Regions from separate parts of the Homo sapiens genome. Here region 2 is linked to region 1. A link means that fine-mapping ties the variant in region 1 to the expression of a gene that starts in the linked region. Tissue or cell type: lung. Region 1 holds a variant in brackets; the other region holds the start of a gene. All regions are shown on one strand. Distances are between the middles of the regions.

Evidence for each region. PIP is the estimated chance that this variant, and not a neighbour inherited with it, causes the effect.
Region 2: TMEM140 starts here. The variant in region 1 is fine-mapped to the expression of TMEM140 in lung (TOPMed, PIP above 0.99).

The regions. Positions count from the first base shown.
Region 1 is chr7:135,167,322-135,175,502 of GRCh38, forward strand. CYREN (cell cycle regulator of NHEJ) reads right to left here and starts at 3,386. Exons shown (of 4, transcript NM_024033.4): 1 at 3,331-3,386; 2 at 1,465-1,739; 3 at 411-486. The coding sequence starts at 1,601. RefSeq lists enhancers at 1,697-1,826, 3,907-4,126 and a silencer at 2,917-3,526. The variant T/C (reference allele first, on the strand shown) is at 4,661.
Region 2 is chr7:135,144,166-135,152,346 of GRCh38, forward strand. TMEM140 (transmembrane protein 140) reads left to right here and starts at 3,907. Exons shown (of 2, transcript NM_018295.5): 1 at 3,907-4,105. It also overlaps a transcript of CYREN not described here. RefSeq lists enhancers at 3,686-4,185, 7,219-7,428, 7,449-7,598.

The sequences.
Region 1 (8,181 bases):
AATTATTACTGCAGGAAGCTAGGAAGCTCAGCATCCTCTGCTCAGGAGAGGGGCAATGGCTAAGAAGTCATCTACCCAACTGGGAACCTTTCCAAGAACACAAACAGGTAAACGCTTCATGTCCCATCCACATACACACCAGTGCACAGTCACGCTCTCCCTAACACACACACGCCCTCCCTAACACACGCATGCCCTCCCAGGCTTCTAGCCTCAAAGACACCCCACGAGCGCACACCCACATGGGGAGAGGCCTGGGCAGCATGGCCGAGATAAGAGCAAGGGAAGTGGCAGGAGGAAGAAGAGGTAGCCTACGGCAGAGGGCGTCTCTCTTACTGACGGTGACCAAGGGTCTAGCCTCTGCCCATGCAGAGTTTCTGGTCATGAGTAAGAGGCTTGTCTGACTTTACCTCAATCAGGATTCCCAGAGCAACATCAACTATCTCAGCCTCATTCATGCAGTACACAGTCCTTGTCGCAGGGAGTCTGAAAAAAAGACATGCAAGGCACAGATGACACAGACTCTCAAGTCTCATAAGGGCAAAGAGAACAGGAGAAGCAGGGCCTCTTCCCCCTGCCTTCCTACCACGCAGGAGGTACCAGCACCTCTGAGCTGAGGAGCTTTCTGACACGGACACAATTTCCTCAGCCTTGCAGCCCAGTGACTGGCACAGGGCTTCATGGAGGCAACACCGGGGTGCCTCCCACCCTCCACCAACTGCCCTACAAGGATCTGGAAGTAGGGAAGGATGGCCGCCTCTGAAACACACACATGGATGCAAGAGGAAGGGAACCTCGGGCTGAGGCTGTACTGAGAGGAACCTGAAAGCAGGACCAGACTTAGGGAAAGACGGCAGCAGTCACAAGGGAAGGCTGTCAGTCAGGAAACCTTAGAGGAGGAGGAGCCAGAGAGGGAAACACCGAGTGCTGGGGCCCCGCCCACTTCACAGTGCAGCCTGGAGACTCACCACCCCCCCCCCGCCCCCCCCCGGCAATTACCGTCATTCAACTAACTCACTCCCCAGCTCCTTAGCTCTTGCTGGCCCTGCAGCTGCTGCTCATCTGTCCATCCCTAAAGGTCTGTCCACAGGGGCAGGCACCACTCAGAACAGACCCTTCCACTGATCTTGCCCATCTGATGTTACCATGTTTGTTGTAAAGGAAGAGACTGGCATTCTGGACAACTGGCATCAGAGACTGGCTGACATGGAGAACCCACTCTGTGTGTGCTGAGGGCAGGGCACTCACCAGTGCAGAGGCAGAAGTGGGTGCCTGTCCTCGAGGGTTAACCCGCTTTGCCTCCCGCCCACAGCCCCTCCACCTTCTAAAAGCTCAAGAGATGATCAGACTGAAACACCCGCCCATCTTGCTGTTCTGCCTAGGCTGGAAGACCTGGCCCAGGTCATGGAGGCCCCTGCTCCACTTGCCAGATTCGCAGGAGTCTTCTGACCAGAGCTGTCGCACCTTGCTGCTGCCACTGGCACTGCTGCCATTCTCATCCTCTTGGGGGCCTTCATTGGTGCCACATTCTTTGTAGCCACCTGGGCTGTCAGCCATGAGGGAAGGACCCTCGTTTTAGTCTCGGATTGTAAGGTTTCCATCTCTGTACCTTCTCACAAAGAAGAGTCAGGGCCCAAGCTTAATGACCTGTTTTTTAATTCAGGAAGGTAAATCTCGTTCTCTCGTCACACCCGGAATTACAGGTCCATTTGTCCTCAGTGGGAGTTGATCTTTGATTCCTACAAAGAACAATAAAGTCCGGTGAATTCCCATACCTCCAGTCATCAGGCACAGTTACTGGTCGGTGCAGGGCAGGCCAGAAGTGACCAAGGCCCAAGAGACTCAGACGGCCATTCACAGGCATCAGGCAGGTGTGATTGTGGGCAGGACAGCAGCTCAGGAGAGAGCCCTCTGACCTCCCCAAAGCTGGTGCCCCCTACAGGCAGCCAAAGCCAACCAGAGATACCTCCTGCAGCCTCTGTGCTGACTGACTCAGCACAGGAGGAACGGAAGGAGGCGGAGGCCCCTAATGTTCCTTCTCATTACCACCCCAAATGCCACTGTCCTCTGGGTGCCCAGCCCATTCAATCCCTAAAATACCTCTTAATGGCCTCTCCCTCATCTGGCCAACTCGATTTCTCTACTCTTCTATGGTGGCTCAGTTAAATGAAACTGAGGGCATTTTATTTCACAATAAAGTCTCATTGGCCAACACGCCGCCCTTAAGCTAAAGATACTTCTGATTGGTCAAACTTGAAGCAGCAATAGGGGCCCGGAGGCATTAACTGTGCCAGTCTGTAGATTCTGAAGCCCACGCCAGCCTCTGATCTAGTTTGGCCTCTCTTTTCCCTATCCCAATTGTTCTGCCTCCACTCAGCAGTCCTGGAGCTCAGTCCTCACCCAGAGAGATGGAGTTGTGACTCAGAGGGCCTAGGTCTCTACCTTCCACTTAGGAATCAAGCCAGAAGCTCCTGAAGCGGAGGTTTGCCCAAAAAAAAGAGTAGTCAGCGATAGTCCTCTCTGAATCATAATTTGATAATGCATTGCTCATCCAGATGGCTGTTTACAATTTAAGAAAAAATATTACCAGGCCCTCCTCCTAACCTGCCCGGCCATGGGGCACACCTTTGCCAATGCACCTTCATTTCTGTCAAAACTCAGTGATATTAGTGACTCCTACCCCCTAAGGCGCCTCCCAAGCGCAATGCTGCAGTCTGTGCGGACAAATTTAGTTCACCCTGGGGTGCCTATTAAGTACATTTCGCAAACGAGGAACTGAGACTTAGTTAACTTGCAGAAGATCACAGAAAAGTTTGAAATCAGCTGGTTGGATTCGCAGCCAGGTCCTGCAGACTCCAGACCCCGCGCCTCCCCGCCCTACTTCTGGGCCCCAAGAGCAGGCCGCGGCAACTTCCAGAAGCCGGGTCTCTGGGGCACCGCGCTCGCGGACCGACCTCAGTCCCATCCCAGCCGCTCCCTGCCTGGGCAGAATGGGGGCCCCGCGGGAACGCGATGTGCTGCCAGTTCACAGCCCGCCCTCCCTCTGCGGGCCGGTACCCGCCGCTGGCGGCGCCGACCTGTGGGAGGCCCAGAGGGCGGGTGAGTGCGGAGCGGAAGGCGCGGGCGAAGCACCGCAGGGGCCTCGCTGACCCCGCCACACGCCGGGCAGGGCTGCAACGGCTCCTTCCGACTGGAGCGGCCGCGCGCTCCTCCGGCCGGCTACTGGCTTCCCTGCTCTCAGGTTCCCGTCTCCGGCTCTCGTGCCCCTTCTTAGCTTCCAGAGCGGAGCCGGGAGGCAAATTCCAAGCGGTTGTGGGACCCACGCCTCACCCGGAACTTTAAGCCCTGCCGTCTCGCCTGGCGCCCAAACTCTGCGGACCTCCACTGGCCGCCCGCCTCTTCCGGCCCCGCGCGCTCCGGGGTCCCGCGGGCTCCCGGCCTCGGGACACTTCCGGTCTTGGGGAACTCCCGGCCCCCTCGCAGTCCCGGCGCCCGGGACACTTCCGGCTCCCGGCAGCTGCCTCAGTCGGAGGTCCGCGGGCGCCCCATGCTGGCAGTGGTAATGCCGCCGGCTGGCATCCGGTTGGCTGCGCGCTGGGAACGCCAGCGAGGCAGCGCCACCGGCTTGAGGAGGGTGAAAGTTCAATTCTTGGCCCCTGAAGTTAGCGGAAGGGAACGGGCATGTTTTGGAAAGGCCCGCCGGGAATTCCCTCAGAAACCAGGCGAAGCTCCCTGCTGGGCCAGGCCCCCCTCGTGTGCTTGAGGAGGATGGGAGCCCGGCCTCGGTTTGTTATCCTAATTAAGTGGAAAATTAAGAAAATAATAGAATAGCGTAAGTACTAATAGTAAAATTATAGTAAGAGAAATAACAATAGCTAGAATGGAATGAATTGCTGTATTAACCAAGGCTAGAAAGAATTTCAGCCCTCCGAAAGTTAAAGCGAGGGAAGAGAGAGACCCTCTCATATTGTTTTATACTCAGTACCTGTTTTTTTTTTTTTTTTTAAAAAAAAAAGGAAGTGAAATCAAAGACAGGCAGCCCAGCGCCAGGCCCAAAACTGGACCTGGGCCTGCCTGGCCTAAACCTAGTAGTTAAAAATCAACTCATGACTTAGAAACCGATGTTATTCATAGATTCCAGACATTCTATAGAAGAACATTGTGAAACTCCCTGCCCTGTTCTGTTTCTCCCTGACCATCGGTGCATGCAGCCCCTGTCACGTACCCCTTGCTTGCTCAAATCAATCACGACCCTTTCATGTGAAATTTTAGTGTTGTGAGCTCTTAAAAGCGACAGAAATTGTGCACTCGGGGAGCTCGGATTTTAAGGCAGTAGCTTGCCAATGCTCCCAGCTGAATAAAGCCCTTTCTTCTACAGCTCCGTGTCTGAGAGGTTTTGTCTGTGGCTTGTCCTGCTACAGTCCTTGGTTCCCTGACCAGGAAGCGAGGTGACTGACAAGCCCTGTGGAGCGTCCCTGCAGAGGACTCCGGCCAGCCTGACTGACGCAATCCAAAGAGCGCTCCCGGGTAGGAAATGGCCCCGGTGGAATGCCTTGCCAGAGCAGCGCATAGCAGGCTCCCGAGAAGGATTAACACTGGCTGAACACCGGGAAGGAACTGGCACTTGAAGTCCAGACATCTGAAGCTTGTCAAGACTAGT[T/C]TTTGGAACTTGCCCCACTCCATGTGAGTGGAAGCATGGCCTGATCACCCACGGTGTGCCTGTATTGACATCTTTGTTCTGGTTTTGACTTGGCTTGACTTGGTAAGACTAGTCTTTGGAACTTGCCCCACTCCACGTGAGTGGAAGCGTGGCCTGATCACCCACGGTGTGCCTGTATTGGCACTTTTGTTCTGGTTTTGACTTGGCTTGACTTGGTAAGACTAGTCTTTGGAACTTGCCCCACTCCATCTGAGTGGAAACGTGGCCTGATCACCCACAGCATGCCTGCATGGGCACTCTTGTTCTGGTTTTGACTTGACTTGAATTGCTGGATACTTTGGTTTTGGTTTTGACTTGGCTTGAATTTTTTGGTACTCGGATTTTGAATTTCGTGATTTTGGTTTGGTATAAACGGTAAAAGTGTGTGTGCCCTCTTTACCTGTTCTTTGTCTTGTGGTATGTGTGGTGTGAGCGTGGTATTTTGTCTGGAAAAAAAAAAAAAAAAACATGGGTCAGGTGCAAAGTAAGCCCACCCCACTGGGACCTATGTTAAAAAAATTTTTTTTCAAGAGAGAATTTAAAGGAGATTACGGTGTTAGTATGACACCAGGAAAACTTAGAACTTTGTGTGAAATAGACTGGCTAGCATTAGAGGTAGGTTGGCCACCAGAAGGAAGCCTGGACAGGTCCCTTGTTTCAAAGGTATGGCACAAGGTAACCTGTAAGCCAAAGCACCCAGACCGGTTTCTGTACATAGACAGTTACAGCTGGTTTTAGACCCCCTTTCCCCCACCACAGTAGTTAAGAGAACAGCAGCATAAGCGGCTGGCAGAGCCAAGGAACGACCAGAAAAGAGAAAAAGAGGCCATCTGTACCAATTCTAAGAGTTTAGACTAAACAAGTTCTTATTAATAGCAAAGGATAATTGAAATCTCAAACTTACAAGGTTTTCAACAAAAGTGAAGTTTGCTAAAAGTTAACAGTGTAACATGTATTTTGGTAACTTCTAATCTTGTGGCCTTAGACAGTCTAGTCCAAAGACATAAAGAAAGTTCGCTTTTTTAAAAAGGAAAGAAAAGGGGGGAGGCAGAATTTATATTAAAAAAAAGTTATATGGTAAATTCTTGTCCTGAAATAAATTAACTGGTTGTTTAAAGAAAAAAAAGTTTGTTAATCAGTCAAAAAATTGAGACATGTTAAAAAATTGTCTGGGAAAGTCGTGAGAAAAAAATTATAAAAAAAAATTTTTATGCAAAAAATATTGTATAATTTAAAAGTAATGAGGCCTCCTGAGTACTATTTAAAAAAAAAAAACCAGTTCATGTGCAAGATGTATAAGAAAAGTAAAATATACCTTTGGTAAAAAAAAAAATTATAAAGGGGCATAAACGTGGATTTTTACCTACATTAAAAGGTTAAAAAAATTATTGTTTTAAAAGTTTAAGCAAGCTTTAAAACGTTAATTATAAAAAAAATTCTGTGTGTAAACATATTAGCTAAGGTTAAAAAGGTATCATCCAGTTTTTCTGTGAACTGGACATTAAAGTAAAAATGCAAGAGGTTTTTCTTAAAGCATCAACCTGCTCTTTAACAAAAATTATAAAAGGTTAAAAAGAGTCTATAAAATCTTACCTTATGGTCAAACATAAAAAATTGGATAAATATGTCTACAAGGTTTTATTAAAATTAAGTTTAACATTAATAACACACTAATATAAAGGTAAAATTTAGCTTATCTGGTATAAAAGTCATACAGGAAGCATTAGTAAATATAAAATAGTGTTTAGCTTTCTTTTGTCTAAAAACTAATAAAAATTGGTGCTAAAGGAAGCATTCATTTTACTAGAGGATCATAAAAGTTAAAGACTTAAAACAAACTTTGGCAATTAAGACAGCATACCAAGATGCAAATGCCTGGTTGAAATGGATCAAATATTCCATCTGCAGGTTAAACAAAAGCAATTAGCATGCTTGTGCACATGGCAGGCCAGAGGCCCTGATTGTCCCCCTTCCACTAAGGTGGTCCTCCAGTCGGCCAGGCATGGGCTGCATGGTAGCTCTTTTCCAGGATTCTATAGCCTGGAGTAATAAGTCATGCCAAGCTCTCTCTGCTATATCCCAAAGTCCCTGCAGGTCAGCCCCCGAGGGCCATCCAGCTTCCATCTCCCAACACTAAGTTCACTACGTGTCTCTCATGGCAGGGAGGAGACTTAGCATTCCTTGGAGACCTGAAGGGATGCAGTGAGCTTAAGAATTTTCAAGAGCTTATCAATCAGTCAGCCCTTGTTCATCCCAAAGCGGATGTGTGGTGGTATTGTGGTAGACCTTTATTGGGGACTCTGCCGAGTAACTAGAGTGGCACTTGTGCTTTAGTCCATTTGGCTATCCCTTTCACCCTGACATTTCATCAACAAGAGGAAAAAATAATAATAAGAAGAAGACATCATAAAGCGAGAAAAGCTCCTTATAGGTCTTTCAACTCTCACATCTATTTAGATGCAATTGAAGCCCCGCAAGGAGTCCCAGATCAATTTAAAGCTTGAAATCAAATAGTTACAGGATTTAAGTCAATATTTTGGTAGATGACAGTCAATAAAAATGTAGATTAGATAAACTACATCTATTACAACCAACAGCAACGAGCTTTTCATGAGTTAAAAAGAAAAACTCATGTCGGCCCCAGCCCTGAGGCTACCTGACCTGACAAAACTCTTTACGCTCTATGTGTCAGAAACAAAAAAAATGGCAGTTAGAGTTTTAACCCAGACTGTAGGGCCCTGGCCAAGGCCAGTGGCCTATCTCTCAAAACAACTAGATGGGGTTTCCAAAGGCTGGCCCCCATGTCCAAGGGCCCTGGTAGCAACGGCCCTGTCACAAGAAGCAGATAAGCTAACTCTTACACAAAACCTAAACATAAACTCCCCCCATGCTGTGGTGATTTTAATAAATACCAAAGGACACCATGCTAGATGAATGCTAGACTAACTAGATGCCAAAGCTAGCTCTGTGAAAATCCCCACATAACCATTGACGTTTGCACACCCTAAACCCTGCCACCTTCCTCCTGGTATCAGAGAGCCCAGTTAACCATATCTGGACTCAGTTTATTCTAGTAGGCCCAACCACCGAGACCACCCTTAAACATCAGTAGGCTGGGAGCTGTACATGGATGGGAGCAGCTTCGCCAACCCCTGCAAAGTGACTCTGAAGAAGACGACAAGCCCTGCTCCAGTCACACCTGGAAGCTGACTGGTCCACGCACGGCTGAAACATGAGGAAACTCATCACAGACTCATTTTCCTTAAAATTTGGACTTGAACGGTAAGGACTTCAACTGACCTTCCTCAGACTGAGAACTGTTTCCAGTATATACATCAAGTCACTAAGGTAGGACAAAAGATTGCTACAGTCCTATTATTTTATGGTTATTATAAGTGTACCAGGACTCTAAAAGAAACTTGTTTGTATAATGCTATTCTATCCAAGGTATGTAGCCCAGGAAATAACCAACCTGATGCGCG
Region 2 (8,181 bases), 23 kb before region 1:
TCACCTTTTCTCCAGCTACTTCATAGTGTGGAGTTTCCATGCCAGGAGAGTCAAGCTGAAGTTGAAAAGACCAGAGGCTACTACGCCACTCAGGACCATGCTCAAAAAGTAGATGGGTCACTCTAGAAGATGCAAGCCACTGTCACCAACCCCAGGTCCAGAGCAGTGGCTCAGATATGTTGCCCAGAGGAGAGGCATGCCTTAAGAACAGAGAGCTCTGAAGCTGTCCTCAAGTAAACTGACTTGTTTGGAACAGAGTGTGGGGAAGTTCAAGGTTAAGAGTACTGCCAAAAACAATGGAGATTTTGACAGTAAGCAATTAAGAGGAAATGAGTAGCTTGATAAAAGCAACAAGCTCAACCATAGGCCAGCTAGGTTGCCAGAGAACCAGTGAAAGAGACAGTAAGAAATAACCCTCTTGGAGTAAAAACAAAAAAAAGAAAAAGGGAAGATAAAGAATAAGAAAGAGGCCAGGCACAGTGGCTCATGCCTGTAATCCCAGCATTCTGGGAGGCCAAGGCAGGTGAATCCCTTGAGCCCAGGAGTGTTAGACCAGCCTGGGCAACATGGCAAAACCCTATCTGTACCAAAAAATTAATAATAATAATAATATAAAAATTAGCCAGGCATAGTGGCACGCACCTGTAGTCCTAGCTACTTAGGAGGCTGAGGTGGGAGGATCACCTGAGCACAAGAGGTCAAGGCTGCAATAAGCTGTGATCGTGCCACTGCACTCCAGCCTAGGTGACAGAGAGACCCTGTCTCAAAAGAGTAAAAAAAAAAAAAAAAAAAAAAAAAAAAAAAGAAGAGGAACAAAGAAATATTTTAGACCTCCAGTTAAAAATGGCAAACTGGATACACATTCAATTTTGCTCCCTCTCAAAACCACCAAAATAATTTATTTTTTAAGGCATAAAGCTGAAAGGATGACAAGAGGAGACCATTTTGGAAGCCAGGAAGCAGAACAAATTTAAACTTCTCAACAAAACAAGAAAGCCAGACATAATGGGACAAAGCCTTCAAAATTATAAATGAAAATTATTTTTAACCTAAAATTTTATATTCAGTCTAAATTTGATCACATTTGAATAGATCAAGTTAGAATGAAGATATTTTCAGTTTTGTAAGTTCTCAAAAAATTCTCTTCAGTGTACCCATTTCTCAGGAAGTTACTGGAGATTTACTCTCCCAGAACTGAATAAATGGAGAAAGAGAAATGCCTTTGATGCAGGAAGCAGGAGATCCAACCTAGGACAGAAGTAAAGGGAATCCCCAGCATGGTGGTGATGTGAGAAGCCAGGACAACAGCTGTGTGTGGTGTCAAGCCCCAGACTGGGGCAGGTTGGAAGGGTCTGAAAAGCCTTTCTCAGGAAGATATAGAATACTTGATGCATAGAAATTTATTCATAGAAGATTTGATAAAGATTTGAGGGTTGGATTAGTGTTAAGCAATAGAAAACCAAGCAAGCAAACAAACTTTTTAAAAAAAGCAATTATCTTCAGAGAAGATCAAAAGTTATGCAGGATAGGAAAAGTAATCTTAATTTTCTACATGGCTCAGCTGCTGTAAATGGTATTTACAGGCACACCTCGGAGATATGTTGCAGGTTCTGTTCCTGACCACTGCAATAAAGCAAGTATTACAGTAAAGCAAATCACACGAATTTCTGGTTTCCCAGTGCATATAAAAGTCATGTTTATACTATAAGGTAGCCTATTTAGTGTGTGATACTGTTATGTCTAAAAAAACCTAACGGACATACCTTAATTTAGAAATACTTTGTTGCTAAATAATGCTAACAATCATCTGAACCTTTGCCTTCACAACATAAGGCCTAACATTTGGCTTATCTTTGCTTTCACAATGCCTTCCTCACTAAGCTTAATCATTTCTAGTTTCCAATTTTAAATGAAAGACATGTGACACTTCCTTTCACTTAAACACTTACAGGCCATTGTAGGGACATTAATTGGCCTAATTTCAGTATTATTGTGTCTCAGGAATAGGGAGACCTAACGTGAGAGAGAAATGGAGGAACGTCCAGTTGGTGGAGTGGTCAGAACACACGGTCAGAACACCAACACAGAGTTGGTGGAGCGGTCAGAACTGAATTATCAATTAAGTTCACCGTCATATGGGTGCGGTTCATGGCACCCCAAAACAATCACAATAGTAACATCAAAGATCACCATAACCAACATAATAATAATGAAAAAGCTTGAAATGTTGCAAAAGTTACCAAAATGTGACACAGAGACATGAAGTGAGCAAAGGCTATTGAAAAAATGGTGCCAATAGACTTGCTCGATGCAAAAATGCCACAAATCCTCAATTTGTAAAAGATGCAGGATCCACAAAGAGAGATGCACAATAAAATAAAGTATACCTGTGCATATTCCAATATTGTAAACACTGAATATTGATTTAAACAAAACTATAACCAATTTGGATAGAGGAGGAAGAGAGGAAGCATACTTCTGGAACATGCAGTGGGGAAGAAGAAAGCTAAATCTTCACCTTTTATGGTTGGGAGTCAGTAGATTATGCCTGAAACTGAAAAATCAAGAAGTACCAATCCAAGCATGTTATTTAGAGAACTGAGGTAAATGCCTAAAGAATGAGCACAGGTGAAAGTGCTTGCCTCTGAAGAGGAAGAAAGGGAGAGTGTGGGACTGCCGATTTTCGTAAGTTTTGAAAAACTGACTCTTTGAAAACTAGGTACATGATAACCTTGAATAAATTTCATAAATATAAATATGTTTCTATCTCTTCTATATCACTTCACTCACCAGTATTGAGTTTTCAGAGTAACTACTGTATATTAGTATCTAAAAGTTAATTTTCTGTCTTAAAGGCATTAATATGGATGCTAGACTAAATATACAGAAATTCCACTTTTCATAATAATAGCTACCATTACTATGGTCCCAGTATTGTACTAAGCACTTATATTATCTCCAGTCCCCAGAGCAACCATGCAAAGTAGGTACTGTTTCCATTTTACAGATAAGAAATTGATGCTCAAAGAGATTAAATAATTTGCTAGTATGTAGCAGAACTCTCTGATCTCAAAGCCTCTGTTCTTCCTTCCTCCTGGATCCCATCACCTCTTTCTAGAGTTTGCGTTTAAAAGAACTAGGGGCAGGGGGAGGGCAATGTAGCAGTTCAAATAACTCCTCCTTTGGAGGAAGGGCAAGGAAGCAGAAGAGAACCGCTGAAGGATTCAGCAATAGCACTAGGTAGCAGTCTCATGTAACCAAGTTTAACCCACAGTTGAAATTTCCAGTTGGTCATGTGAGCAACGGAAGCAATTTTTAAACTCTGGCCAGGAGCCCCAATGCTTACAAAAATAAAAGCTTTGTTCGGCTCTTATTTTGAAATAAAATAGATGTTCCAGCTGCTCCAACATGGGCCTAAACACTGCAGTGAGAATGCTCAGGACACAAAGTTTTGTGTCCAGAGAAGCCCAGTCATCATTACAAAATTGATCTCTAAAAGGGGTTGGGGGACAGACGGCATAGCTGCTTCCCAAGGAAATGAGTAGGAGGTGACCTGGGTCCTGACTGCCACACTGGCTGGGAGCTTGGACCAGATGATCCTGATGGGTTTCTTCTGAATAAAATTCCGGGTTGTGTTTATCTTGCAGTTTAAATCACTGGGAGCTTCGAGAGTTCTTTGGCTCCTTCCCTTTCTGGAATTATTGTGTGATATAATCAAGACATTTACCTGGCTCTTTAAATCAGTTGGTTTGCCGGCTACAGTGTAGGTAAAGAGTATGTCATAATGGACAATAAAAAGTTGTTTACATACCTCATTTCTGAAAAGTCATGGGCCACTGGCAAGTTAGGAAACGAAAGTGAAATCAGCTGATAGTGACATCAGTCAGAACAAATGTACCAAAGTTCAGAGAGCTGTTTACTAGGCACGACTGCGAAGGCAAGGGGGCACCAGCTCAGGACTGCATCTGCCTGCCATTTCCCTTCCACTCCTCCTTTCTGGAGTCTGACATTAGAAAGCCAGCGAGAAGGAAGATTCAAACAACCAACCCTGATTTCCTGCTTCTCCTTTTCATGAGTGTTCCTGTGGTCTCTGCACCTCCTTTCTGTAAGTACCGATCCTGCAAGCATCACAGCTTACCCAGACGTCTACTACCTTGTAAGACAATTTTGTTTTCTTCTCAGATATTTCATGTTCTGGCAATCCACATAGGGGAACTCACTGGTTGTTCAGTATCTGTGACCCTCCCTCGCTCATGTCTGTATAATCTACATAATCTACCCCCTTTACTCTCTGCTCTCCTTCCTTCCACTCTTCGGCATCAACATGTGTAGCTCTGGCCTCAAAGATGATGAAAGTAAGGCCAGTATAACTGGTTAGAAACGATGCAGGGCTGACTGCACACAGCAGAGTCTTGCACGCAGTGTGTACAAGGACATGGCTGTGGCTTGTGCAATACACTGTTCATCAGAAATAGGTAAACAAAAGCAGGTCACCGACCAACACTAACTAAACCACTATTCAATGGTAGTTACGAACACATCATAAAACTTTAAAATACACACTGAAGATTAATATCAACAGAAAAACTTGTGTTCTTGCCTCAAAGAATGGGACCTAAGAGATGTTTAGATCTTATGTTAGTCATTAGACCAGATTGCTCCTCATGCCCCAGTGGAAATCCATGGTGGTATTTTAGTTCTCTTGATGCATATTTTAAGAGATTTTTTTTAATGTGGGCTTAGTTTCACTAATAACTTCCACTATGCTTCTTCGCCTATAAAATCAAAGGCTCCTTTGAAAGAGGGAAAAGACACATATTTCCTTCTTCCCTCATGATAACTGAAGAGCATTTTTCAGTATCCACTTACCATACCCCATTCCCCAAAATCTCAGGTCTGAGACTCAGTCCATGAGATATTTTTTCAATCTTGCACATATTCCCCTTTCTCAACTTTCTTTCCAGCTTAGTCCCTGCTTTATCTAATTACTAAGGCTGTTTTGAATGCCTGTTTTATAAATTTCTTTTTTTTTCATAAATGTAGCACATAATTCTAAAAATATTTTACTGCAAATAGAGAACAATTGCCTGTAATGTCACCACCCAGAGCTACCACAGCTAACATTAACATTTTCAAATACTTCTTTAGTCTCTTTCTCCTATGCCTCTTTATATGGATGTAGTCACACTATGTAGAGTGATTTTATACCTGCTTTTTCTAAAAGATGCATAGTATTTTATCCTTGATACATCATAGTTTACTTCTGATATTGGACTTTCAAGCTGCTTCCCATTTTGTGCCAAAAGTAATGCTGTGCTGAACATTCCTATGTATAAATTATTGACTGGATTTCTGATTGCTGTCTTAGGATAGATTTATAAAAGTGGGCCAAAGAGATATGACTATTTTTAGGGTTTTTAATGTTTATTGCCAATCTGCCTCCCTGAAAGTTTGTACAAATGTTCACATCCACCATCATTGTGTGAGAATGCCAGTTTAACCATATTTTTGGTATCATCAAGTGTTTTTACCTACAGTGTTGATAGGGAAACTCTGGTTTTTTACTTGGCGTATCTTTAATTACATTAGAAAAGTTACAGAATTTTTTTTCATGTTAGTTAACTACTTTGCATTCTTTGTGAATTATCTCTTCATATTTGTCCATTTTTAATGAGGTGTAATGTTTTTTGACAGTTTGCGTAAACATTTTAAACATTAAGTACATTAATCATTTCATAGTTGTGGTAGATATTTTCCATGCTCATTGACTTTTAATTATATTTATGTTGTTTTTGGTGAATAGAAATCTTTATTTTAGAATAGTTAAACCTGTGCAATTCTTTATTTGTAGTTTCCATTTGCTCTTAAGTTCCAAATTTTATTTTTCACTCATAAATCAAATATATCCTTTTTTCCAGATCATTGATTTTTTTATCTGGTTTTACCTTTCACTCTTGGATCCATGTGAAATTTATTTGGGTATGTGGAGTGAGATGAGGACCTAAAATAGTTTTGTTTCTCTTTTCTAGTTAGCTGATCAATTGCTTCAGTATTAGTTAATGAAGAACCCTTTCAGGACTCAAAACAAATATCTCTTCTGAAGAGAGGCTTTCCCTGACCCTATAATCTAGTCATCACTTCCTCCTGCCAGTTTCTCTCTCTCACTCACCCTGTTTATTTCTTTCCCAAACCTTTTCAAAAATTATAATTACCTTTTAAAAAATACATTTGGTGTTTGCCTTCCCAACTAGAGTACAAGCTCAATGAGAGCAGGCACCTGGTTTGTCCTGTGTGGCACTGATTCCCCAGGGCCTCTGATTCAGGGAGTCATCCAAAATGTGTCACTAACAGAGTTACAAGATGAAATGCTGACCCCACGAGTCGAAGTGGGTGGCAAATTGCCTTTGTAATTGCGGAAGAGAGGGCTGGTGCGGGAAAACTAACCATTGACAGCCAAAGGCAGTCACCAGTTTCTGGTACTACTGATTCTCAAACTCTGAATCTTGTGAATCTTGGCCGCCCACAAACTGGACCGTGGAGTCCTGCCAACAGAAACCAAATGAGATTAGCTGGACGTGGTGGCAGGAGGCTGAGGCAGGTGAATTTCTTGAACCCGGGAGGCAGAGATTGCAGTGAGCCAAGATGGTGCCACTGCATTCCACCCTGGGTGACAGAGCAAGACTGTCTCAAACAAACAAACAAATTAAGATGGCTCATTTGTAGACATTTTCTCATTTTTAAGGATTTTCTTCTCCCTCTAAACTTTTTGTAATCTTTGTTCCCACTTGGATTATCTGCTAGTGAGAGCTAATAGTCAACAAAACAATTGCACAAATAGCAAGTTAATATTAATGGAACCATTTAAACAGCTATCTCAATGGCTTGTCATCTGGGTGCCTGGACTCATGCTTCTGACTTTATGTTATAATCTCATGGTATAGTCCTATTTTGTCTGATAAAGCTGTTTTATTTACATGGAATAATTAAGTAAATCAAAACATCACAGCATTCATTAAAAACTTGGTGGTTGGGATGGCTGTCCACAGAAAACACTGGTGAAATCCAGGAGCTGCCACCACCTACACACTGTTGAAAAACACTGCAGTAGCCCTGTTTTGAAAAGAATTAGAACCTGGACTCATGTTTCTACCAAAGGAAATATGACACATTTCCCTTTCTTCTTCCCTTTTTATTTTTGTGACAGCCACACCTAAACCATGAGCACACTGATCTTCAATGTGTTCCACCAGAAATATTTTAGCCAGGACTGGTGGCCTCTGACAAGTAAACCTGCGCCCTTGTTCTATGCCCTGGCAAGCTCTGTTGCCCCGGCTTTATTCTGCTAACATTTTCTTCCCAGTTCTCCTCTCTCCATTCAGGCGACACACCCAACCATGTCTACCTGACTCTCCGTCAATTCCCGTTTCTCCCACTGAGCTATTGCTTCAGCATCATGACCAGAGCAGACACATTGACCCAGTTTGTGTCAGGCCCCAAGCCCTCTATATGTGAGTGAACTTCCTTCAGTCTCACAACAGCCCATGAGGAACGTGACAACTGATGCATTACAGATGAGGATGTGAGGCTCAGGCTGGCTATGTAACTTGCCCAAGGTCATATGACTAGTGAGTGACAGAACGACGACATGCTCCCAGGTCATCTGGCTCTAAAACCCATGCTCCTTACCACCACACTGTGCTACCTCTCAACAGGCAGCTGCATCCTGGAGTCATCACAACCAAACATAAATGAGACCAGCTTCCTAGAGTTCATCTCTGGGAATGAACCCTGGCACTATTTGTCTTCCTAGAATCTCACCACTGTCAGGCTGGTAGCCTGGGCTTAACTTCTCTGAGCCTCAGTTTTCTCTCTATCGTAGTAATAATTTAAATAATACTTACCAGGTCATGTTCTAAATGCCATGCACAAATTACTTCATTTAATTTCCATAACATCTACAAAATAAGTTATATAATTAAAGCCATTTTACAGATGAAAAATCTAGGCAGAAGGATGTTAAGTAACTAAGGTCACACAGCTGGTGAATGGAAGAGCAGAGTCTTGAACCCAGAAGCCATAGCTTCAAGGTCCATGCTCAGAACCAGTATTCCACACTGTCTTCACTACGTCAAATGGGAACAGTGATAATAACATCCACACAAGGGTGTTGTGAAGATTAAA